7 linked regions of the Homo sapiens genome follow. The protein of the gene in region 5 purifies or fractionates together with the protein of the main gene of each other region. This does not show direct contact. Each region holds a gene or a part of one and is shown on either strand. Other genes may lie near its edges.

Region 1 (3,500 bases), on a different chromosome or scaffold from region 5:
AGCTGCCTGTGGCCTGGCCTTGGTGTAGAGCCAGAGTCTTGCGCAGGGGCTGAGGGGACCCAGATGGTGGGGAGGCTCCGGAGCATGTGACCAGGGACCGTCCTGCTGTGGACAGACCTCCTGGGCTGAGTGTTGGTCGGGACCGGGCCATGCACCTAGAGATGTCCTTTGACCAGTGGGGAGGGTCTGGGGGTGAGTGTGGCTGTGTCCCTTGGCTACTGGGCCAGTGTAGTCCAGGGCACTCTAGGGACTCCCTGTGTTCTGACTTGAATGGAGCTATTGGGGCTGAAGGGGCAATGGCCCTGTGTCTCCTCGGAGCTTGCAGGTCCTCTTGGAGGCCCAGAGAGAGCCAGAGGAGGGCAGGGTCACTGCTGCCTCCTCATGGTATGGAATTGACTGAGCCCATGCTGGGATCTGGAGGCCCCAAAGGAATGAGGCCTGTGGCCAGGGGCCGGCCCAGGAGCTGGGGTGGCTTTCGGGGGAGAGGCCCGCAGTGCTGGGAGGTAAGTGGTGATGTGCTTGGCAGCCTCAGTGCTCCCTTAGGAGGGTCTAGGACCCCACCTCGAATCTTCCTGGGCTATGCAGAGCCAGGAAGAGAGGCCAGGTGGCCTTGGTGGGTGGCATTAGATGCTCCAGCCCTGCCTGGAACTCCCTTGGGGGTCGGGCCACAGCCAAGAAGAGTGCTGTTTTGCCTGTGCTAAGGCCACTGTACGTGCAGAGCTGGACCCAGAACCTCGTCCAAGGCCCCCGGCAGTCTCACCAGGAGGTGTTTAGAGCTGGCCACGTGGAGTGGCATACCTCCGGGGGGCGGGGGGCTGTGAGAGGACAGTGGTGTGGGCCCTTGGTCTGTGCCTCCCACAGGACAGCTGCTTCAATAGCATCTGTGCCCCCTCCTGCCTGTAGTCCACCCACCACTGACCCCTGGACTTGGCTGGCGGATTTTCACACCTTCTCCTGGGGGCAGGTCTCAGCTTGTCCCCAACCCAGTCAGAGCCAGTCTCACTCCCTGCCTCAGGCAACTGTGTATGTTTTAATTTTTATTTATTTATGTATTCATGAGATAGAGTCTCACTCTGTCTCCCAGGCTGGAGTGTAGTGGCACCATTTCGGCTCACTGCAACCTCCGCCTCCCGGGTTCGAGCCATTCTCCTGCCTCAGCCTCCTGAGAAGCTGAGATTACAGGCGCTCGCCACCATGCATGGCTAATTTTTGTATTTTTAGTAGAGATGGGGTTTCACCATGTTGGCCAGGCTGGTCATGAACTCCTAACCTCAGGTGACCTGCCTGCCTCGGCCTTCCAAAGTGCTGGGATTACAGGCATGAGCCACCGCCTGTAATTTTAATTTTTAACCAAACTGAGAACTTGAGGATTGAATGCAGGTAACGGGTGGTGTTCATGTGGATGTGGATTCCATGAAAGAGGGCTTTGTCCTCACTGTCGGTTCTCCACATGTAGGTCCTTTGACTCAGCAGGCCTTAGGCCTAGTCCACAGGTGCTGAGTGAACAGCCCCAGCGTCTGACAGCTCCTTAGCTTGGGGTGCACAGGCAGCTGAAGCAGTAGGATGGCAGCTCAGACTTCCCAGGGCCCCACGTGTGCAGGGCTGGCCTCCCAGCACCACCAGGCAGGGCCGGCCTCCCAGCGCCACCAGGCAGGGCCCTGTGAGTGTCCCCTCCCTGACACACACCTTGTAGAGAGGCTGGGCCTGGGCAGGCTGCTCTGCTGCACCACATCCCATTCTCAAGAGGGTCCCAGGTCCCAAAGGAAGCCTGTAGCCCAGTGGCTTTCTGGAGGTTTGCATGGCTGGCAAGCCTGGGCCGGCTGCTGGAGAGGCATCAGGACAGGAGCAACTCTGCTGACTGCTCCCCTCAGCGAGCTCTAAGAGTCTTTGGGTGGGAGGCACATCACATCCCTGTCACTCCTGGCTGGCCCTGGAATGCCTCAGCCCACACACCCCACTCCAGCCAGGGCTGTGGGAACTGTGTCTGCTCAGGTACAAAAGGCTTTGTTTGTTCTTGGACCTCTTGGTTCTGGTCTGGGCTTCCCACCTCCCATGCTGTGAGCCCCCACGGGCTGGGACCGCAGCTTGCCATGTGTCTCTCAGTGGCACCAAGTGGACGCTCGAGGCTTATGTTGAGGGAGTGAGAGCCAGGATAGGCCACTGGGCGTGCTGGGAGCCCACACAGGCAGGGAGCCCAGCGGGAGGTGCCCTGCTCCTGCCAGCCCCGGTTACCCCAGCAGGCTCGGCACCCACTCAGAGCCCCCATTTCTGCTCCCCAGGCACTCCCTGTGTGCCTACCTGCCCTTGTCCTTGTCCTGGGCCAGCTTGGCTCCTGCCTCCCAGCTCTGAGGAGGTCTCTGCAGGTAGCCAACCTCCCTGGACGAGGGGGCAGCTGCCTCCTCTCACCTGGGCTCACCCTGAGCCAAGTCCTCTCAACCCAGGATAAATGGCCTTTCTGAAGGCCCAGAGAGCATGCCTGCCCCAGTGTGGGAGCTGCATCCGCTCCCCACCTGACAGTGATGGCCAAGAGCCCAGTGTTCCTGGAGGGCTCCCAAACTCTGGACCTGTAGGGGGGTCAGGGCAGTCGCTGGTCCCTAAGGGAAAAGCGTGACCCTCGGCCCCAGGTGGCTGAACCCGTCACTGCCAGGGCGAGCTGTCACCTCTGTGAGCTGATGAGGCCTTGCTTTTAGGACCTCTAATCTCTGCAAGAACCCAAGCTGGCTCTGCCTGTTTCTCCTGAGCAGCTCGCAGTGTTCACCACACTCCAGCACGACTCGGGACAGGCACGTGCGCCCCTCTGCACCAGCTGGAGTCCCTCAGGACACCTGGCTGGAGCTGATGGGCATGGGCGGGTGTGTGCGAGCATGAGCCCGCAGGTCTGTGAGCTTCGTCTCCCTTTCCTTCTTCGCAGTGTACTAATGGTCACTTGATGTGCGCTGGCTGTTTTATCCACCTACTAGCAGATGCCCGGCTGAAGGAGGAGCAGGCCACGTGCCCCAATTGTCGTTGTGAGATCAGTAAGAGCCTCTGCTGCCGGAACCTGGCCGTGGAGAAAGCCGTGAGCGAGCTGCCTTCAGAGTGTGGCTTCTGCCTGCGCCAGTTTCCCCGCTCCCTCCTGGAGAGGCACCAGAAAGAGGAATGCCAGGACAGGTAACTGAGGGTCAGGGGCTTAGCCTTACAGGCGGGGCCCAGGACTGCTGGGAGCCCACCCTGGTGCAGCAGGGCCCTGTGCAGGGTGGTCTGGCTGTCTCTGCTGTCTGGGCCTTGGGGACCACCTGTGTAGCCCAGTGACGGCCCTGTGGGAGGGTGCCTGCACAGGATGGGGACAGGTGGGTTTTGCACCCAGTTGTTATCCGGACATGAGCCTAGCCTTCCAGTGCTCTTTGTGGCTGTGGGGGAGCCCCTTGAAGGGCCCAGGACAGCGTGTCCAACGCAGGACCTCAGGGAGCTTGGTGTGAGGGTACACTGCCCATGGCTACCCATCCAGTGGAGGCAGCCAC
Region 2 (3,500 bases), on a different chromosome or scaffold from region 5:
TATAAACAGAAAAAAATTAGAAAGAATCTGGGTACCTTAAATTTTTGCTGGTATAATCCTTCATGTTTATATGTTAGTTGGGTATTGATTTTCCTTGCACACCATTTAGACAACCCCCTTCCACCCACACTCCCCAAGCCAAAAACAAACAAAAACAAAAACAAAAAAACCTCTCCTAGCTGTTTATTTTTAATGTTACTGAAGCAGTAGAAAAGTCTTGATTTCAGAGGACTCCCTTTTCTTCCATTTTTTCCTGATGAGTTTGCAAATCTGATCCTGATTGGTTTGGGGATAAAGAATGAAAGCATCACTCTCATTGTGTAAACAGAAGGCAGTCAGTGGAATAGAATCAAAGGGAAGAAAGCTGTTCCTCAGGATTTTTTATATATTAAAAATATTTAGAGCTCCATGTTCTTAATTCCTAAGTCATTATTAAGATTGCTTTTTAGTTGTTAAATTAGCTGTTACATCATTTTTTAAAACTACACAAGCAACACAAGACTACGTGTTCTAATTTTTAAAGAAAATCAAACAGTATGGAAGTCTCTGGCAAGAAAGTGATGGTCCTCCCTTCCCTACCCCTCTTCCCAGCCCATTTGTGTCCACAGAGGGCACATATTAATATTTTACATCTTGTACTATACATTCTCATATTCATATCTCTATGTTTTAATGAAAAAATTTCAAACAATTAGAAAGAATTTGTGTAATGTGAATTTTTCTTGACATTACTCCTCATGTTAATATATTGGCTGGGTATTAGTTTTACTTATACCCTATTTAAACACCCCCCTCCAAAACTCAATCTCTCTATCTTCCTACTAATGTTTATTATCTATCATCTATTATCTATTTATCTATCCACCTATCTATCCAGACATTACCTATCATCTACCTGTCTATTTATCTATCTGTATCTATCTATCATCTATCATCTATTATTTATCATTTATCTACTATCACTTATCTATCTATGATTATCATCTATTATATCTATCTATCATCCATCTACCTATTATCTATCATCTACCTATTATCTATCATCTGTGTGTCATCTGTCTTCCTATCCAGCTGCAGAGAGAAAACACCTTTGGTTTTAGTTTTTTATAAATACTATAACATGTTGTTCAGTGACATTTCACTTTGTAGTCAGTCTTGAAAACCTGCCTATGCCATTCCATCTAGACAGACCTGACGCATCCTCACTCTGTAGAGTAAGCCACACTGTTAATCCCCTGCTGCTGTATGTCCCAGCAATTTCCACTTTCCCACATCAGCAGTTCCTGCCTTTAGATCACTTCTGAGTCTTAGCACCTTATGTGAAAATGCTTCTCTCTTCACAACCACATTAAAAAAAACAATGCATACTCTTATCTAGCTCTGGAGGGTTTTTTTTATGTTAACCTTTTGTATCTACTTTGAATTTTTTGCTTACAATATGAGATGAGGATTTATTCTTATTTTTTTCCCTGTGGATATTCAATTTTCTCAATGTCATTCTTTCCCCCGTGGTTTTAAATATTGCTTTTATTTAGGGTGCATTGAATTTTGTACAGTACCTGCCAAGTTTTTCTACATCATCCACTGTCTCTGGCAAGGCAATACCCTTGGTTTCAGGCAAAAGCATCACAAGGCCACCACAGATGGATGCCAGGATACCTATGGAATAGGGGAAAGGTGTTACCGCTCCAGGAAGACACAGCTGGGCCCTCTCCCATGGGGCCTGCTCACTCTGAAGCCATCATGTTGCTCACTGGAGTAGCTCTCAACCACAGCAACCTCTGCATCCCAGATCAATGCCCCAGCTCTCCCTTACCACAGCTTCAAAGGTTCTCTCCCTTCCTCAAACCCTGAGTAGCACCACGGCCCCTGTATACCTGGCAGCCATGTGTTCACTCACACATCTCACAGTGATTGACTGAGTTCCTTCTTAGGGTCCAACACCCAAGGCCTCCTCTCCTGCATCACAGGGAAACAGAAGTGCTGGAGGGGAGTCCCCTCTGCGCCCGCTCACTGACACTCTCACTTACCTGCCCCTCTCCCTCCGATTCCTCCTGTTACCTTACAGTGGAAAGCTTGTCCTGGTGTCTACTCCGGGACCAGCCTTCTCCTAGGCCTGTCTCTTTGGGCTCCTCACTGTAGGGATCAACCCTTCCTCCAGTATCTTCAACCTATTGGGAGAAGCTTTCAAACACATTCAGACCTTTCCTGTTTGACCAGCCTTCTCTCAATCTCACCTCATCCTTCCATTACCATCCTTTCTTTTTCTGCTCTTTAGAGCCAAACTTCTTGAAAAGCCACCCTCCCCTATTTTCTCCACTTCTTTGTAGCCTAGTGGTGTGCTGGTAAATGCCTAACAACCCTCTTTGGGCAATCAAGCCCTGATTGGCAGCATCTGCCAATGTGCATGGTTTAAATGCTCCCACTGTGGGCCCTTCAGGCTACTGACACAACATCCCTGCCTGGGCCACTGGGAAGTGATGCAGGAGCCCCATCAATGGGGCTTCCACCATAAAGATGCAGCAGACACAATCTCAGGAGCACAGGTAATACTGAAGGTGTAGTAGCTGAATTAGGGACTGATGAGTGTTGGGCATTTATTGCCTCTATTTCTCATATATTTCATATTCTTTACTTTTTGATGATATCTGTGCTTGATGACTGGCTTACAAAATTCTTGAAAATGTAGCTGATATGGTTTGGCTCTGTCTATCCACCCAAATCTCATCTCGAATTGTAATCCCCACATGTTGAGGGAGGGACCTGGTGGGAGGTGACTGGATTGTTGGGGAGGTTTCCCCATGCTGTTCTCGTGATAGTGAGTGAGTTCCCATGAGATCTGATGGATTTATAAGTGGTAATTTTCCTTGCTCTTCTCTTACCTGCCACCATGTAGGACGTGCCTGCTTCCCCTTCCACCATGATTGTAAGTTTCCTGAGGCTTCCCCAGTCATGTGAAACTGTGAGTCAATTAAACCTCTTTTCTTTATAAATTACCCAGTCTTGGGCAGTTATTTATAGCAGTGGCAAACGAACTAATATGGTAGCAGTTGGCCCTGGTGAGTGGGAGGTGCCAGCACCAGCATAGGACCATGCTCCAGGTCCTGCCTCTGCCTGCCCTCCTCCAGACTCAGCCTATATTCTCCCTGGCTCTGCTCCAGTCAGGTTCCTTCTGCCTCTTGCTGGCCACCAGATCCACATGTGCTACTTTCAGTCCTTAGGTTGGACCTGGTCTCGTGCCCTCCTGCCTCGGGCTTCTCACTTGGTTTCCACTTCCTTGGCCACCTCCTCTCCTTCTGCCTAGGTCTGTCACTTTGCCACCCCTCAGGTCTCTGTCCTAGGCCTCCTGCTTTCCTCTTGCTTTGTCCTGATTTTCTGGGGGGCTTGGGCCACTCCCTCAGCTTCAACCATTCTCTACTGCCAGGTGGCTTCCAGCTCTTCATCCCAAGGCCACTCTTCCCTCCTGAGCTCAGCGGTGTTGAGCCTGCTGGTTTCTATTT
Region 3 (3,500 bases), on a different chromosome or scaffold from region 5:
GTCATCTACCCTGGGGACTCCCTGGGCTCAGATCATTCAGAGCTGAATGGGTGAGGCCCAGTGTTCTTGGGTGCCAAAGCCATGTGGACTGTAGGGCAGGTGGGGCCTCACCACATCAGACTTGGTGGTAAATCTATAGGTCTGCAGGCTCTCCAGCGCCATCCACTTCACAGGTAGGCGAGCGTGGCGATGCTGTTGAACACTATAGTACTCCCTGTCCAGGATGTCGCGGGCCAAACCAAAGTCAGCCACCTTGACTGTGAATGACTCGTCCAGCCTTAGGGGTAGGGAGAGGATCACACTTAGGACTGGCCCTTACCAGGCCCTGAACCCACCTGTTCTAGGCCCTTACAGAATTTTTTTTTTTTTTGAGACGGAGTCTCGCTCTGTCACCCAGGCTGGAGTGCAGTGGCGCGATCTCCGCTCACTGCAAGCTCTGCCTCCTGGGGTCACGCCATTCTCCCGCCTCAGCCTCCTGAGTAGCTGGGACTACAGGGGCCCGCCACCACGCCTGGCTAATCTTTTTGTATTTTTAGTAGAGACGGGGTTTCACCGTGTTAGCCAGGATGGTCTCGATCTCCTGACCTCATGATCCGCCTTCCTCAGCCTCCCAAAGTGCTGGGATTACAGACGTGAGCCACCGCGCCTGGCCAAATTTCAAAGCCACAGTGTCCAGTCCAAGTCTGCACTGGGCAGACAAAAAAAGTAAGGTGCAGAGAGGGGAGGACAAGGCTGGAGTGGGCCCTTCCCTGAGGCGGCCTTGAGCACCGCACACCCTCATGCCCTGTCCTTTTGCTTCACCCCAGCTACTCTGGACTCTCACATGCAGTTCCGCGCAGCCAGGTCCCTGTGCACAAACTTCTGCTCTGCCAGGTACTCCATGCCGCGGGCTACCTGCAGGCCAAAGCTGATGAGGTCCTTCACGGTGGGGTTCTGGGGGCACAGGTGGGTTGGTGGGCAAGGGCACAGCAGCTCCTTCTCCAGCTGCTGCCCAGCCCCCAACCCAGAGCCAGATGAACACTGACCCGCTGAGGTGAGCGGATGAACTGGAGCAGGTCACCGTGGCACATATAGGGCAGCAGCACATGGGGCAGGCCCTCAGGTGGCAACATGATACCAATGAGAGCCAGCACATTCGGGTGGTTCAGGCCACGCATGAGCAGCCCCTCTCGCAGGAAGGCCTCCACCTGCTGCATCTCTGTGATGCCTGCAGAGCAGCGCAAGTCAGGCACAGGGCAGGGCGTCCCTTTATAAGGCTCAGATGGGGAAATGGGAAATGAAGGTCTCCTGCTCAGGGTCACTCAGTAAGGTGGGAACACAGAGAAAAAGAATCCTCCCAGCCTGAGGCCCCTCCCTCTGCCTTCCCATCTTCTGCCCCACTTACGACTTAGTGACTTGATGGCACATTGGATTCGATTCTGGGCCTGGTCTATGTATTCTCCGTGGTAGACAACTCCAAAGTGGCCTGGTGTGAGGTGCATAATGAGTCGATGAGAGGGGATCCAGGGCCCAAGGCTCACACCACACATTCTCATTGGCAACCAGACCTCAGAGCACTAAACTGGCCAATCTGACATTTTATTTATTTTTAATTTTTATTTATTTTTTTTGAGACCGAGTCTCACTCTTGCCCAGGCTGAAGTGCAGTGGTGCAATCTCAACTCATTGCAACCTCTGCCTCCCAGGTTCAAGTGATTCTCCTGCCTCAGCCTCCTGAGTAGCTGGGATTACAGGCAACTGCCACTACACACAGCTAATTTTTTTGTATTTTTAGTAGAGACTGGGTTTCACCATGTTGGCCAGGCTGGTCTCAAACTCCTGATCTTGTGATTCACCCACCTAGGCCTCCCAAAGTGCTGGGATTACAGGTGTGAGCCACCACACCCGGCCCAATCTGACATTTTAAAAAAGCAGCAGGGCTGCGTGCAGTGGCTCACACCTGTAATGCCAGCACTTTGAGAGGCCAAGGCGGGTGGATCACGAGGTCAGGAGTTTGAGACCAGCCTGGCTAATATGGTGAAACCCCATCTCTAGTCCCAGCTGCTTGGGAGCCTGAGGCAGGAGGATAGCTTGAACCCGGGAGGCAGAGGTTGCAGTGAGCCAAGATCGTGTCACTGCACTCCAGCCTGAGAGACAGGGCGAGACTCCATCCCCCTCAAAGAAAAGCAGCAGAAGCCAAGCGCAGTGCGCCTGTAATCCCAGTTACTCAGGAGGCTGAGGCAAGAGAATCGCATAAGCCCAGGAGTTCAAGGCCAGCCTGGGTAACATAGTGAGATGCTGTCTTTTTTTTAAATTAAAAAAAAAAAAAAAAGGCTCATGCCTTTAATCCTAATACTTTGGGATGCTGGGGCGGGAGGATCAGCTGAGGTCAGGGGTTCAAGACCAGTCTGGCCAACATGATGAAACCCCGTCTCTACTAAAACTACAAAAATTAGACAGGTGTGGTGGCAGTGGCAGGCCCCTGTAATCCCAGCTACTCAGGAGGCTGAGGCAGGAGAAATGCTTGAATCCAGGAGGCAGAGGTTGCAGTGAGCCGAGATTGCACTACTGCACTCCAGCCTGGGCAATAGAGTGAGACTCTGTCTCAAAAAAATAAAAATAAATAAATAAGTAAATAAAGCAGGGTCGGGTGCGATGGCTCACGCCTGTAATCCCAGCACTTCGGGAGGCCGAGGCGGGCGGATCACCTGAGGTCGGGAGTTTGAGACCAGCCTGGCCAACATGATGAAACTCCATTTCTACTAAAAATACAAAAATTAGACGGGCTTGGTGGTGCACGTCTGTAATCCCAGCTACTTAGGAGGCTGAGGCAGGAGAATCACTTGAATCCGGGAGGCAGAGGTTGCAGTGAGCTGAGATCATGCCACTGCACTCCAGCCTGGGTGACAGAGTGAGGTTCTGTCTCAAAAATAAATAAATAAATAAATAAATAAATAAATAAATAAATAGGCTGGATACAGTGGCTCACGCCTGTAATCCCAGCACTTTGGGAGATCAAGGCAGGCAGATCACCTGAGGTTAGGAGTTTGAGACCAGCCTGGCCAACATGGTGAAACCCCATCTCTACTAAAAATACAAAAATTAGCCAGGTGTGGTGGCGGGCGCCTGTAATCCCAGCTACTAGGGAGGGTGAGGCAGGAGAATTGCTTGAACCTGGGAGGGGGAGGTTGCAGTGAGCCAAGATTGCACCACTGCACTCCAGCCTGGGTGATAGAGCAAGACTCCATCTTGAAAAAATAAAATAGGCCGGGCGCGGTGGCTCACACCTGTAATCCCAGCACTTTGGGAGGCTGAGGCGGGTGGATCATGAGGTCAGGAGATCGAGACCATCCTGGCTAACACGGTGAAACCCCATCTCTACTAAAAATACAAAAAATTAGCCGGGCACGGTGGCAGGCGCCTGTAGTCCCAGCTACTTGGGAGGCTGAGGCAGGAGAATGGCATGAACCTGGGAGGCGGAGCTTGCAGTGAGTCGAGATCGCGCCACTGCACTCCAGCCT
Region 4 (3,500 bases), on a different chromosome or scaffold from region 5:
TCCCACCTGTCAGCTGCTGGCTGGGCCACCGACGCAGGGGTTTCTCTCCCTGACTGCAATTTGGGTGAAGTAAAAGGGCCAAGACAGCGCCACCCCATCCCTGCCAATGGGGCACATTCAGCCAGTACAGACCTCTTCCATTCCTACAGAGGGAGACCCCACAACCTGGCAATGACAACCCGAGAAGCAGCTCTTTTAGGCCTGGGTTCAAAACCTGGCCCTGCCTCTTGAGGGAATATAAGCTTAGACAAGTTATTTCAGCTCTCTAGGCCTCGGTTTCTGCACTTGTGAGATGAGAATCACTCCACACTCCTCGTAGAGCTAAGGGGATTAAATTATATAATACACACAAGACAATGAATGACACACAAAGAAGGGGGCTCAAAAATGTTAGTGTCTTCCAGCCGGGCGAGGTGGCTCACGCCTGTCATCCCATCACTTCGGGAAGCCAAGACGGGAGGATCACCTGAGGTCGGGAGTTGGAGACGAGCCTGACCAACATGGAGAAACCCCGTCTGTACTAAAAATACAAAATCAGCTGGGCATGGTGGCACATGCCTGTAATCCCAGCTACTCAGGAGGCTGAGGCAGGAGAATCGCTTGAACCTGGGAGGCAGAGGTTGCGGTGAGCCGAGATTGTGTCATTGCACTCCAGCCTGGGCAACAAGATTGAAACTTCGTCTCAAAAAAAAAATAAAAAAAATAAAAAATAAAAATGTTAGTGTCTTCCTCCCAGTTCCATCCTCTTACCCATGAGATTCTTAACTCCCACATCTAAAAATATAAAGAATCAGCCATAGAGGCTTTGGGTAACAGAAAAGAAAAAGTGGGTTGTTAGAAGCAGCCAGGACAAGGGAGGACTGAGTCTCTCTTTGGAGACACACGCGCCGGCCACAGGGCTTTTGCTTAGGAAAGCAGGCCTGACTGTGCCTGCTCCTGCCGGCAGACCTGCTCCCCCAGCACAGGGCTCCCTTCTGGAACACGGCGTGGAGTGTGGAGAGTCTTCCCCAGCACCCGCACCCGGCTCCTCCCTCCTGCTCTGCAGGACAGCATTCTAAGCCTGTCACAGACTCCCAAAAAATGGTCTGTTGCCAAAACAAGTCAGGGCGCTATAGAAACCTGTTCCCCAAAAACTCTGTGTGTATGTGTAGTTTTTTTTCTAAACATACATTGTGCTTTCTCTCACTTTCTTTCCGATAATAGAGAGACACACCCCAAAAAACCCCAGCTAACAATAAAAAGCAGTAAACCCAGCAAAACTATCCACAGGGCTCAAATGTTACGCAACCAAAGGAGCTGTTTTTAAAGACTCTCCCTACCCAGTTCAAGAGGTGGGAAAGGGAAGGTCTACGTGGCTGGCCAGCCTTGCTTCTCCCTGAGGGACTGGGAGATAACTGTTTTCTCCCTCGTTTGTAAAAATAACTTTTTTGGTGGGTGGGAAGGAAGTGACCAAACTTACATTTTGAGCCTGACAACATGTCAGCGTCATCCTAAAAATAGGAGGTTTCCTTTGTTCCTCACAAATGAAAAGTTTCCTACCTCCAAGCCAGGCAGAGTACAGCCGCAGAGTCTGAATTCACGCAGACGCGGGCAACTGCACTTGGCAGGCACCAGGCTCCCCCTCCTCTGAAGGGAGCTTTGACGTGGTGATACGGCAACGAGAGGGATAGAATGGTCTAGCAAGGCTGCCAAGAAGCCTGAGTGTAGAAAGAAACCTGCCAAGTCTGTTCATGTTCAGAGGATCCCAGGCAGGTTTAAACTGGAAGCCTCTCTCCCAAAGCAAAAGTCGTGTCAAATACAAACAAATAAAACTAAACACTACAGCATTTACCCCAGTACCAGGGGTCCAAAGGACTGGGCAGAGTCCATTCTAGTCTCTCCTATTGTTGCTGTGTTTTCCAGGAGGCTGATGTTTTTCCCAGTCTCAGAGTCCCTATCTGAACAGTGAAGAGGAAAGCTGTCTATATCTTCTTCCAGCACTGCAGATCCCCAGGACAAAGCTTTTTGAATTAAGGAAATGATGCAGGATAAGAAGACAATCAGGAGAGAGCATCAGAGATGAGAACAGAGGTTCGTAAACCCTCAAGAATGAGTACAACTTTGGCAGAGGCTACATCACATCAGAGAACCATCAACATGCCTGACTTGGCCATCAGGAAAAGAAACCACATCAGTTAAACGCAAATTCCCAGGCACAACGACACACACAAAAACTGCACAACTTGAAAGGGACACGACTGGCCAGCGTGGCTAGAGCAAAAGTCTTTCCCAAGCCCAAGTCCCTGGGTCAACATGGGGCCTCCAAAGTTGCAGGAACTTTGTTGGAGCCAGGGTCTGAATTCACTGAGCCTTCCCCGTCCCTCACCTGTGTAGAAGCTGGAATTATTATTATTAGTTTCTTGCTCGAAGATGCTCTTGGTCTGAGAGTCGAATCGGAGCCATAGTCCAATGGCAAGGACAGCAATCCCGGCAAGCTGCAAGACATACAGGACATCAGCATTAATTCTGGCTGCCAGCAACAACACAGTCCCCACGCGCTTAAGGGTGAGACTTGCAAAGGACTTTGTGACCACCCTTGGTCTCTGCCCCTCATATACGCCTGGTAGTTGTAGATGCCATTACGGGGTGTGTTTGATTCATGCAGGTACTAAAAATACCAGCAAGCGAGGAATAAACAGTGACCTACCTGCCGCCCATTGGCTGAAGGGGTATTTTATAGGCAACAGAACACTATACAGCAGTGAAAACGAGTAACTCTAGCTACACGCAACACCATGAGTGCATCTCACAATGCTAAACCAAGAAGCCAGAGCCACAGGCACACACACAATATGATTCCATGTAGTTAAAAACGCTATGCTGTTTAGGGATGCACACAGAGCTAGACGCTTACATGTGCCTATAAATGATAAAGGAAAAGCATTGTTATCAGGTGAGTGGTGATGTTTAGGTGGAGGAGGAAATTATGCTCAGGGAGGTGCCATGTGGCTGGGGGTGTCGTATTCTAACTGTTGACTTGGGTGATGGTTACACAGTTCCGGACACACATGCACCAGGGAGGGCAGCTGCAATGTCCCTGGAGACCTGCTGCTCAGTAAATGACATGCCAGGGCCTCCCCTCGCTGGCACTGCTGAACTAGATGCTGTGCAGGAGGCCTCCTGCCAAGTCCCCCCAGTGCCAGCTGAGCTCCCTCGTCGTCACCCGTACCAGGGCTTGCCGGGGGAGTGACTCACAGGCCTCCAGTGTGGTAGCCGGCTGGACGCAGGAGTGGGTGGGCCCAGGTTTTGCTGGTCCACCCTCCTCAACAGAGGCACTCTTATGTCAGAGCCCGCTCATCAGGGACCTTGGTTCTCGGCTCCAGGAGCTATTGATAGCCCATGGTGTGGACAGGCCTCTCTTTCCTTCCTCCTTTCCTCCTCTCCTTTCCCTTACGATATGGCAGTGAGTGTGGGCATGTTGGGTGGACAGCAGATGTGGCAATAGTGGGAAGGGCCACCCA
Region 5 (3,500 bases):
CGGGGGTCCTCTGGGTCGGGGCTCCCCTGACCCTTCTCTCTTCCCACAGGGTGCGGGGGGCAATGGCACTGCAGCTCTGGGCCCTGACCCTGCTGGGCCTGCTGGGCGCAGGTGCCAGCCTGAGGCCCCGCAAGCTGGACTTCTTCCGCAGCGAGAAAGAGCTGAACCACCTGGCTGTGGATGAGGCCTCAGGCGTGGTGTACCTGGGGGCGGTGAATGCCCTCTACCAGCTGGATGCGAAGCTGCAGCTGGAGCAGCAGGTGGCCACGGGCCCGGCCCTGGACAACAAGAAGTGCACGCCGCCCATCGAGGCCAGCCAGTGCCATGAGGCTGAGATGACTGACAATGTCAACCAGCTGCTGCTGCTCGACCCTCCCAGGAAGCGCCTGGTGGAGTGCGGCAGCCTCTTCAAGGGCATCTGCGCTCTGCGCGCCCTGAGCAACATCTCCCTCCGCCTGTTCTACGAGGACGGCAGCGGGGAGAAGTCTTTCGTGGCCAGCAATGATGAGGGCGTGGCCACAGTGGGGCTGGTGAGCTCCACGGGTCCTGGTGGTGACCGCGTGCTGTTTGTGGGCAAAGGCAATGGGCCACACGACAACGGCATCATCGTGAGCACTCGGCTGTTGGACCGGACTGACAGCAGGGAGGCCTTTGAAGCCTACACGGACCACGCCACCTACAAGGCCGGCTACCTGTCCACCAACACACAGCAGTTCGTGGCGGCCTTCGAGGACGGCCCCTACGTCTTCTTTGTCTTCAACCAGCAGGACAAGCACCCGGCCCGGAACCGCACGCTGCTGGCACGCATGTGCAGAGAAGACCCCAACTACTACTCCTACCTGGAGATGGACCTGCAGTGCCGGGACCCCGACATCCACGCCGCTGCCTTTGGCACCTGCCTGGCCGCCTCCGTGGCTGCGCCTGGCTCTGGCAGGGTGCTATATGCTGTCTTCAGCAGAGACAGCCGGAGCAGTGGGGGGCCCGGTGCGGGCCTCTGCCTGTTCCCGCTGGACAAGGTGCACGCCAAGATGGAGGCCAACCGCAACGCCTGTTACACAGGCACCCGGGAGGCCCGTGACATCTTCTACAAGCCCTTCCACGGCGATATCCAGTGCGGCGGCCACGCGCCGGTATGGGCCTCAGTGTGTTCTCGCAGGGCCCGGACTGCAGGCGTCCGTTCGTGGGTTTGCGTGTCCCAGCCTGCTGGGGAGGGTGCACGTGAGCAGTGTGGCCGTGGCTCTCGCCAGCCTGGGCGCTTGCGTGGGTGGGTGCCGCATCTCTCAATGCCATTCACGCTGGCGCCAGTCCCAGGCCTGTGTCGGGCACTGGGGAACACAACAGTGAGCACGGTGGGGCTCCCTGCCATGTGGGTTCTGTTCTCGGGGACGTGTGTAGGACGTGTGCCGGAGGGAAGGGAAGGGCCTGTCCCGAGTCTTGGAGCGCGAGTGGAGAGGGCCCTTCAGGACAGGGGGTCTGCCTGCCATTGACACGCTGTGGTCCGCAGGGCTCCAGCAAGAGCTTCCCATGTGGCTCGGAGCACCTGCCCTACCCGCTGGGCAGCCGCGACGGGCTCAGAGGCACAGCCGTGCTGCAGCGTGGAGGCCTGAACCTCACGGCCGTGACGGTCGCCGCCGAGAACAACCACACTGTTGCTTTTCTGGGCACCTCTGATGGCCGGATCCTCAAGGTTTGGCCCAGGCTGGGGCGGGGAGGCTCTGGAGGGCCCGTCTGTGCACAAGGCCCGTACCCTCACCGGCCTGCCCTCGCGCACACAGGTGTACCTCACCCCAGATGGCACCTCCTCAGAGTACGACTCTATCCTTGTGGAGATAAACAAGAGAGTCAAGCGCGACCTGGTACTGTCTGGAGACCTGGGCAGCCTGTACGCCATGACCCAGGACAAGGTGAGCCAGACGCAGCCCCGGAGAGCACTCTAGGCCAAGTGTGCCCGGTCATTGCATCCCAGGCCCTTAGGACAGGCCTGGGGGCCAGAGGAGGATGGGGTGCTGCAGAGCTGGGCCCTTCTCCTTGGTCTGGATGAGGGGTGGCTGGGTGGGTCCCGGGCAGTGCCTCCATCCTGTGTCTCTCTAGCACTGCCCCGTCTCTGCCGCTCCTTCTGTTTGTCCTTTGTGGTCTCAACCATGTCTCTCCCTCTGGCCCCGCCTCTGCCCTGTCCTGATGGAAGGGACCTGGGTTGGTGTCTGAGGCGTGTTGCTGAGGGTGGATGGGAAGACGGGGTCCCTGCACAGCCCATGTGAGCTCAGTCAGTGGAGAACATGGGCCTGGGCCCCAAGCTTGTGGGGGGTTAGTGCCAGAGACCCTCAGGCCAGCCCTAGGAGCACCCCTCGGAGGGAGCCAGTGTAGAGGACAGGAGCTGCCCCGGGAGACACCATAGCCAAGACCTCCAGGCTTCCCTGGGCTCCCATCGGGATCCTGGGCCAGGCATGGCCACCCAGAGCCAGAACTGTTTAATATCAAGCCTGAGGTGTCTGAGGCTCCCGAGGCCCCGGGACAGAGCTGGGTCAAGCTGGCGGTCTGGGGACATCTGGGGTCTGCGGAAGGCCCGTGCGGCCTCTGCTGTGGTCCCACTCACGGCCCCGCTGCCCTAGGTGTTCCGGCTGCCGGTGCAGGAGTGCCTGAGCTACCCGACCTGCACCCAGTGCCGCGACTCCCAGGACCCCTACTGCGGCTGGTGCGTCGTCGAGGGACGGTGAGTGCCTGGGGTGGCTCGGGGACACGGCCTGCCTCTGGGATCCCGGAAGGTCGTGGCCTGGGTCGGGGGGCACATCGCACTGTCCTGTCCCGGGAGAACAAGACTCCACCCTGGGCTGAGGCCGCCCCCTGCGCCTGCAGATGCACCCGGAAGGCCGAGTGTCCGCGGGCCGAGGAGGCCAGCCACTGGCTGTGGAGCCGAAGCAAGTCCTGCGTGGCCGTCACCAGCGCCCAGCCACAGAACATGAGCCGGCGGGCCCAGGGGGAGGTGCGTGGTGGGTCTGGGGTGGGGGTCCTGGGCCCCAGGCCGGGCCAGGTGGGGGCTCCCCCATGCTGGGAGCTGTTGGGACAGGCAGGGGAGGGCTCCACATCTCCCCCGCCTGGGCTCTGGGCACCGAGCCTTAGGGATGGAGCCCGCCCTCCATTGGTCCCCTGGACCCCTATGACCTGGGCGGGCAGGGGTGGGGCTTGTCCATATCCAGGGTGGACTCAGGCCCTGTCCCAGGAGTTGCTGGGGTGACCACAGAGAGGCCTGTATTGGAAGACGTGGAGTCGGGTTCTGGAGGCTCCACTGGGACGTGCGCCCACACACGCAGGGAGGTCGGGTCACCGGCAGGTGGGCTGACAGGACTCGGGGTTCCCAGTGTGAGCGGCACGGCCCCTCCCTCAGGTGCAGCTGACCGTCAGCCCCCTCCCTGCCCTGAGCGAGGAGGACGAGTTGCTGTGCCTTTTTGGGGAGTCGCCGCCACACCCCGCCCGCGTGGAGGGCGAGGCCGTCATCTGCAACT
Region 6 (3,500 bases), on a different chromosome or scaffold from region 5:
GAGTTCAAGACCAGCCTGGGCAATACGGCAAGACCCTGTCTCTATCTTGCTTTAAAAACATTTTTAAAAAAAAGAGTGAAGAAAACTAATATAGAAGAGTAGACAATCTATACTTTGCCAGACATCAAAAACCCAACTACTACTGGGTGGAACAGAGAGAGTAAGACAGCGGAAAAGAGGCAGGAAGTGTTAGGGAACATCCTTCTTCAATAATTCAATATCCAGCCAGGTGCAGTGGCTCACGCCTGTAATCCTAACACTTTGAGGGGCCAACACAGGCAGATCACTTGAGGCCAGGAGTTCGAGACCAACCTGGCCAACACAGCGAAACGCCATCACTACTAAAAAAATAAAATGATTCAATATCCATTTACTAACTATCCTTAATTGTCATCAGGACAACTAACAGTAATATGGGGAATCCAGTTTAATAGGGTTTAACTGTATTCAACATGAGGAAAAATACAACAACAAACCAGCTAAAAACAGAACAAGGGATAAAGTCCTTAACAGTGGCTGCTTTTTTGTGTCTTTGGTGCAGATGCCAGTAAATAATCTTGAGAAAAAATGTGAAATGTTTATTGCATATGTAATCAAAAGCAATGTTATCTTTTGGAAAAGTATGGTATCATCTGAATGTCCATTTATCAGATTTATTCCTTAGTTTAATCAGAGAAACTTCAAAGTAGAATCATTAGGCCCAAAGAAAGCAAGTCTGAAATTAATCCTTTCAAAGTGGTAGGTATAGGTTTTCAGCAGTGTAAGAAAATTACCAAATCTGACACTTCTGATTTCTACCCTCCATCCTCATCTTCTGAAAACAGATATGGACAGCTATTTTATACGTGAGTTTTAAATAAAGTACAATATTGAATTATATAGAATTATGAAATATGATAATTTTCATTAACTTTTTATAAACCGGTAAGCAAAAAATAAAACTCTAAGACCCCCAACTGACTCATGGACCCTCCCCTTGCCAAAGGCATTCCAAAGTTAACCTAAAAAACTAGTTCAGGCCATAATGAGAAGTGGGGGTTGGACATGACTCATATACCCTCTTCCCTTTGGAATTCAGGGACAACTGATCAGCATTAACATTAAAACAGAGATATTAAGATGTTTTGTAGCAATAAGACGCCAAATTCCCAGCCTGACTCTAGTACAGCATCACGTCAGATAGCAGGCCATGAAAGAAATTGAAGTATTTTGAGGCCGGGCACAGTGGCTCACGCCTGTAATCCCAGCACTTTGGGAGGCCGAGGCGGGTGAATCACGAGGTCAAGAGATCGAGACCATCCTGGCCAACATGGTGAAATCCCGTCTCTACTAAAAATACAAAAAAAATAGCTGGGCATGGTGGCCAGCGCCTGTAGTCCCAGCTACTCAGGAGGCTGAGGCAGGAGAACGGCGTGAACACAGGAGGCGGAGCTTGCAGTGAGCCGAGATCATGCCACTGCACTCCAGCCTGGGCAACAGAGCGAGACTCTGTCTCAAAAAATAAATAAATAAATAAAACAAATTGAAGTATTTTACCCTAAATTATATTTCTTTGACATATTCTGAAATGGCCCTGCAAAGCTTTCTCTTGTGGGGAAAATTTACGTTCTGTAGAGAATCCTTTCCCTTTCCAAGTCTTTTACCTGAACCAGGAGAAAATTAACTTAAGAGTCTGCCACCTTTTAAAGTCTCATAAGAAACATTTACAATGTATTCTCTCTGAAGCCTGCTACCTGGAGGCTTCATCTGTACAATAAAAACCTTGGTAGCTACAACCTATTATTTTAAACCAGACACTCCCTTCTATGGATTCCAGGACTTTAGATAAGCTCTTTTGACCAATTGCCAATCAGAAAATCTTTGAATCTGCCTACGACCTGGAAGCCTCCCCAACTTCTAGTTTTCCTGCCTTTCCAGATGGAACCAATGTACATCTTACATGTTTAACTGACGTCTTATGTCTCCCTAAAGTGTATAAAATCAAGCTATAGCCTGACCACCTTGGACAGATGTTCTTAGTATCTACTGGGGCTGTGTCATGGGCCACTGGTCACTCATATTTGGCTCAGAATAAATCTCTTCAAATATTTTACAGAGTTTGACTCTTTTCATTGACGAAGTTATTTTAAATACACACATGCACATATACACAGCTTAAAACTATGAACAGAAAAATATTTTACTTAGACAATTTCTGTCTTCAATGCCTGACCCTTTAGCCCTTTAAAACTATGAATAGAAAAAATTTTATTTAGACAATTTCTGTCTTCGATGCCTGATCCTTTAGCCCTAGAATATCCTGAGAAACTTGATCTCTCATTCATATAACATACTAGGCCTTTTCTGTTTAGTCCTATGTACTTGAGAAATCAAACGTCACCTAGAGAACCTCCACCATTGTGTTACCCAGGAGATTTCCGGCTTGTCTACCCACAGGAGCCATGCAGAACATGATATGTTCTAGTAAATCCAAAGAACCATTATTACAACCTTCTCTTTTCCTCCAAATATTCCAAGGAGCTCATTACCAGCATTACAACATAAAAACCTGCAGTATAAAGTAAAAAGTACAATATTTTGAGTCCATTCACTTAAATTCTATTTTTGTTTCTGCTATGAGTCTACTCTTTGAACTTCAGCTTCTCCTTATATAAAATGGCTATCACAGGTTTTCAGTCTTCCAAGAAAGTTCAACAATTAAAATATTTACCAACTTAGTCAACAGGGCAAGATCACCATCTCTACAAAAAATTAAAAAATCAGCCAAGCATGGTGGTATATGTCTGTAGACCCAGCTACTAGGGAGGCTGAGGTGGGTGGATCGATTGAGCCTGCGAGGCTGAAGCTTCAATGAGCTAAGATGGTGTCATTGCACTCCAGCCTGAACAACAGACCAAGGCCCTGTCTCAAAATGTGTATGTACATATATACGTATGTACACATATTTGTTAATCACATAACTAATGTTTTAACACATCTCACTGGAGAGGAAATAAATATTTCTCAAATATCTAAAATGCAGAGCTGTACAAATTAACTGGCCTCCAATTAATATTTGCTTTAATAAATAGACTTCACATATCCTCTCATTAAGTCAACAGAATTTGCTGTGCTATTCCTCTTTTGAAATAGTTTGGTTTCAGATAAATTAAGGCCTTTATGAAAATTCAGTGTCAAATTTGAGTATGGGTTGGGTGCAGTGGGTCATACCTGTAATCCCAGCACTTTGGGAGGCTGAGGCAGGCGGATCACTTCAGGTCAGGAGTTCGAGATCAGCCTGACCAACATGGTGAAACCCTGTCTCTCCTAAAAATACAAAAATATTAGCCAGGCATAGTGGTGCACGCCTGTAGTACCAGCTACTCGGGAGACTGAGGCAGGAGAATCGCTTGAACCCGGGAGGTGGAGGTTACAGTGAACCGAGATTGCGCCACTGCACTCCAGCGTGGGTGACAGAGCAAGACTCCATTACAAAAAAAAAAAAAAATTTTTTTTTTTTT
Region 7 (3,500 bases), on a different chromosome or scaffold from region 5:
GCATTTAATGTAAGTGCTTTTAAACGAGCGAGCCCTTTGTCATCCGATAAATGGCAAAACTCCGGGGAAGAAGGGGCAGTAAACACAAGAAATCAGCACTGCTGCTTCAGGGTGTGGGCTGCATGGGAGCTGGGCTCTGAAGGAATTTCAAGGGCCTTAGGCTCTATTTTGACACACTGGTTTAAGTCCATTCGCGAGAAAAGCAAAATATTTTAAAGGTCTCGCTCTGTTTTTCTCCTTCCTGCTAATAAGCAGAAATGGAGTTCAGTCTTCACCAGCCCCCACTCTGACCCCGTCTGAAGACTGATCTTTGGAAGCCCCGTTAATGTCTGTTTACAGCTCTTACAGACTACTGGGGTCTCTGTGCCACCCTGCGATGTCCGGTCAAGATAAGCTTATTTGCATGTTAGCTTCTGTTTCTTCAGAGGAAAGGGACACCCCTGCCCCCCAACTACAGGCCCAGGACTGGGTTCAAGTTTGGATTCTTACATTCGGACCCTGCCTCTGTCAAGATCTCCCTTGGCTTCAGGCTAAGCCCCATCCAGCGGGGAGGGATGGCTCAGGGCCGCCAAAGAGATAATGGGTGGGCAGAGGCTGAGCTGCTGGGAAGCATTGTTCAGGGAGGTCCAAGTGAAGACAGTGGCCACTCTGTCTGTTATGTCCGCTGCCCAGGAGTCCCAAAGCCCCCTTCCCCACTGAGGATAGCCGACAGCTGGCCCACCTCCTCTCGTGCTGGCAGAAGCCCAATCTCTTCACCTCTCAGCCTGGCAACTCCCTCCACAGACATCCCAGAAAATCCAATTGCAGAGCCCACCAGTTCCCCAAAACCACCCCCTGAGATACAGCAAGTGGGTTTCACAAACAGCCTCAGCCCCGCGGAGCTCCAATCTTTTACTACGTTGCCTTTAGAAAATTACGCAGCTCCGAGTGTCAGTTCATCATTCCGATCGACTGTCACTCACACGCATCGGGACTTGAGAACATCAGGGGAATATGAAATCGCCTTCAGGATCATTTGAAAAAATTATGGCAATGACACATTCCCCCGTGAATACTCCCATCCAGGGCGGTCCCCTACGGGGCTGCCAGGATGAGCGCTTACTTCATCTTTTGTCAGACGACAGGTCCAGCAGGGTTAGGCTGAAAGGGTCTTTGGTGGCCGCATGAAAAGCAGCATTCATTAGATCACACACAGGAAGGATATTTACCCGTTGATCACACAGGGCCCGTCCTTTTTCTGGCAGTCCTTTCCCGAGTACCCGGGGGCACAGGAGCATTCATAGAGGCCATCGTCCAGGCTCACGCAGGTCCTGTTGTTGGCACAGGGGGCCGAGGAGCAGGCCCGAACATCTGCGGGGTGACGGGGAAGACGAGAACTTAGCTTCCTCTCCATACACGAGCGTGATGCGGGCCCCAGTGGGCTTTAAAATGGCTCTATGGCCACCGAGTGGGGTCTGGAGTAAGAGGGTTTAGGGAGCCCCCTCAAAAAAACCCATGAAGTGAGTAAGCTGAGGCTCAGGAAGCTGAAGGGGTTTCCTTGCCTAAGGTCACAGATCAGAAAGTCGTGGCCACTGATATTCAGGCCAGGATAGCTGTTCCCTTTGCCTGGCACCAGGTCACCCCATATCCAGCGACATGTCCGTGACGTTCACTGTGGACATCATGCCCCTCCCTGCAACAGCGTGCCTAGCTGAGATTCCCTAAGGCCTGTCTCCACCAGACAAGACTGCATCTCCACCCTCTCCTGTTAGGGGAGGGGTCCTGGCCAGCCGGGGGATGAATACAGCCCAACCCTCAGAAAAACCACCAGCTCTTCATACTTTTCCATCAAAGAGGGGCAGTGGGGGGGATGGAGATGTAACGACCCCCCTCCGTCAGGAATCAAGAAACCTGTTAACCCCAGCACTACCACGTGTCCCTGTGGTCTCTCTTTCTGCACTCAGGCTCTGAACTCAAGGGGTCCCTGGTAAAAAGGCTTCATCTTTTAAAGCCAGGGAAATTAGAACTATTGAGCGCTCTCCTATCAGCACAGGTTTCCATGAGCACTGGTATATTCCCACCATCTTTTAACACCTTCCATCACGCACACTTCATTATTCAGGTTCAGCAAGCCAGGGATGAGCTGAACACAAGGGCCTGAGTCAGGGGCTCTCTGATGATGGAGACCCCAGCTCCCCAGTGGGGCCAGGAAGGGACCCCTGTCCTGCCCTGTATCCGGCCTGCTGCCATGTGGCAGCAGAGTTCAGCTCCTACCCATTCTGGGCCTCAGTTTCCCTACTTATAAAAAGAGGGTCTTTCCCTGGCCAATCTCTGAGGGACTCTTCAGCTTTGATTTTCTATAATTTGAGCTGCTGTACCTGCCAAACAGAAAGCCAGGGCCAGTGAGAGACACAGCAAGCTAAGGCAGGCTGGAGGGGGTGGGGGGAGGGGAAATCCCCCGTGCTGAGGCCACACATGTGCGTATTTTTTCCCCCTCTCAGAGAGACCCACACCCTCGTGGAGGGGAGACTGCAATCAATCAAGGAGGAAGAGCCTGAACGTTGTGTTGATGGACTACCCCGTGGTGTTCCATGGAAGCCCGGCTTGGTGCAAGGACACATAAAGAGGATTTATCTTTACGGGACGGCACCGGCAAGGCATTAGCACGTGGCGCCTCCGCGTCAGGCTCCTTATTCTCTGCACCCGACTCTCCTGTCACTCAGAATCTTAAATTTAAGCTAAAAAGCTGGCGACCACCCCCAGCTTGTCCCTGCAGCTCTCCCTGCTATGCCAATCCTGGATCAGCCCTCCTGAGCCTCCAACCCCAAGACAGGGGTGAATTAAGCTGCTCTGAGGAAAAGGCTGCTTGGGGGTCTCTGCTGGGACAGCAGCTGTGGCCACGACAGCCTCAAAGATGGGCAAAAAGGGAGAGGGAGGGCTATGTCTTCTCTGGGACCCCAGACTCTCTGGCCATCCCCAAGCTGGCTGCCTTTGTCAACTTGGTGGGGAGGGGACATACCAAGGGCCCATGAGAAGGGAGGCATTTGTCCGGAAAATTTCAGCAAGGGTGTACGGCATTTAGATACCAAAAAGATGGGCTCCAAGCTAAAAGCCTAACCCTGATCCCAAATGGTGGCTTTGCTGGAATCCCCCAGATCCTCAAACGACTCAGAGCTGCTGCCGCTGCTTCTGTGAGGGGCAGCAGAGATGCTGGCCAGAGCATGAGTCAGCTGCGGGTAAACCTTGCACCATATTGCAGGGGCTGGAATTAAGGACCAGAGACAATTTGGGGTGGGAGGGAGCTCAGCTTCAGAACCACGGCTGCCCTGGCTGTACAGGGCAGGGGCCACAACAAAATGCTCTTAGGTGTTCCTTAAGGAAGGATGTTAGATGCAATCGAAGATAAAAATTAACTCTCTTTCTGGGGCTGGGGGAAAGGGTTGTAGCTGGCTTTTTGCCCAACTTCTTTCATATTCCTTAGCAGACACTTGTGCTTCTCTGATCCTCAGTTTCCCTATCTG

The links.
Region 1: the proteins of PLXNB2 (region 5) and ZFTRAF1 purify together in Homo sapiens (affinity purification with mass spectrometry; one large-scale study listed by BioGRID and IntAct). This does not show direct contact.
Region 2: the proteins of PLXNB2 (region 5) and SLC22A3 purify together in Homo sapiens (affinity purification with mass spectrometry; one large-scale study listed by BioGRID and IntAct). This does not show direct contact.
Region 3: the proteins of PLXNB2 (region 5) and MST1R purify together in Homo sapiens (co-immunoprecipitation; one study listed by IntAct). This does not show direct contact.
Region 4: the proteins of PLXNB2 (region 5) and CD9 purify together in Homo sapiens (co-immunoprecipitation; one large-scale study listed by IntAct). This does not show direct contact.
Region 6: the proteins of PLXNB2 (region 5) and SPAST purify together in Homo sapiens (co-immunoprecipitation; one large-scale study listed by IntAct). This does not show direct contact.
Region 7: the proteins of PLXNB2 (region 5) and DLK1 purify together in Homo sapiens (co-immunoprecipitation; one large-scale study listed by IntAct). This does not show direct contact.

What each region holds. Positions count from the first base shown.
Region 1 is NC_000008.11:144,452,872-144,456,371, reverse strand, and holds part of ZFTRAF1 (zinc finger TRAF-type-containing protein 1), read left to right. Parts: intron 1-2,911; coding exon 2,912-3,150; intron 3,151-3,500. Other genes in the region: TMEM276-ZFTRAF1 (uncharacterized protein LOC157542 isoform 1 precursor), read left to right, coding at 2,912-3,150.
Region 2 is NC_000006.12:160,445,878-160,449,377, reverse strand, and holds part of SLC22A3 (solute carrier family 22 member 3), read right to left. Parts: intron 1,660-3,500; coding exon 1,560-1,659; intron 1-1,559.
Region 3 is NC_000003.12:49,890,374-49,893,873, forward strand, and holds part of MST1R (macrophage-stimulating protein receptor isoform 1 preproprotein), read right to left. Parts: intron 1,466-3,500; coding exon 1,385-1,465; intron 1,208-1,384; coding exon 1,026-1,207; intron 934-1,025; coding exon 824-933; intron 278-823; coding exon 112-277; intron 1-111. UniProt on the Homo sapiens protein: Receptor tyrosine kinase that transduces signals from the extracellular matrix into the cytoplasm by binding to MST1 ligand. Regulates many physiological processes including cell survival, migration and differentiation.
Region 4 is NC_000012.12:6,224,400-6,227,899, reverse strand, and holds part of CD9 (CD9 antigen), read right to left. Parts: intron 2,475-3,500; coding exon 2,366-2,474; intron 1,762-2,365; exon of another isoform or gene 1,540-1,761; intron 1-1,539. UniProt on the Homo sapiens protein: Integral membrane protein associated with integrins, which regulates different processes, such as sperm-egg fusion, platelet activation and aggregation, and cell adhesion.
Region 5 is NC_000022.11:50,287,147-50,290,646, reverse strand, and holds part of PLXNB2 (plexin-B2 isoform 3 precursor), read left to right. Parts: intron 1-49; coding exon of another isoform or gene 50-62; coding exon 63-1,130; intron 1,131-1,504; coding exon 1,505-1,687; intron 1,688-1,775; coding exon 1,776-1,904; intron 1,905-2,609; coding exon 2,610-2,710; intron 2,711-2,853; coding exon 2,854-2,980; intron 2,981-3,382; coding exon 3,383-3,500.
Region 6 is NC_000002.12:32,070,056-32,073,555, reverse strand, and holds part of SPAST (spastin), read right to left. Parts: intron 1-3,500. UniProt on the Homo sapiens protein: ATP-dependent microtubule severing protein that specifically recognizes and cuts microtubules that are polyglutamylated.
Region 7 is NC_000014.9:100,729,892-100,733,391, reverse strand, and holds part of DLK1 (protein delta homolog 1 isoform 1 preproprotein), read right to left. Parts: intron 1,351-3,500; coding exon 1,209-1,350; intron 1-1,208. UniProt on the Homo sapiens protein: May have a role in neuroendocrine differentiation.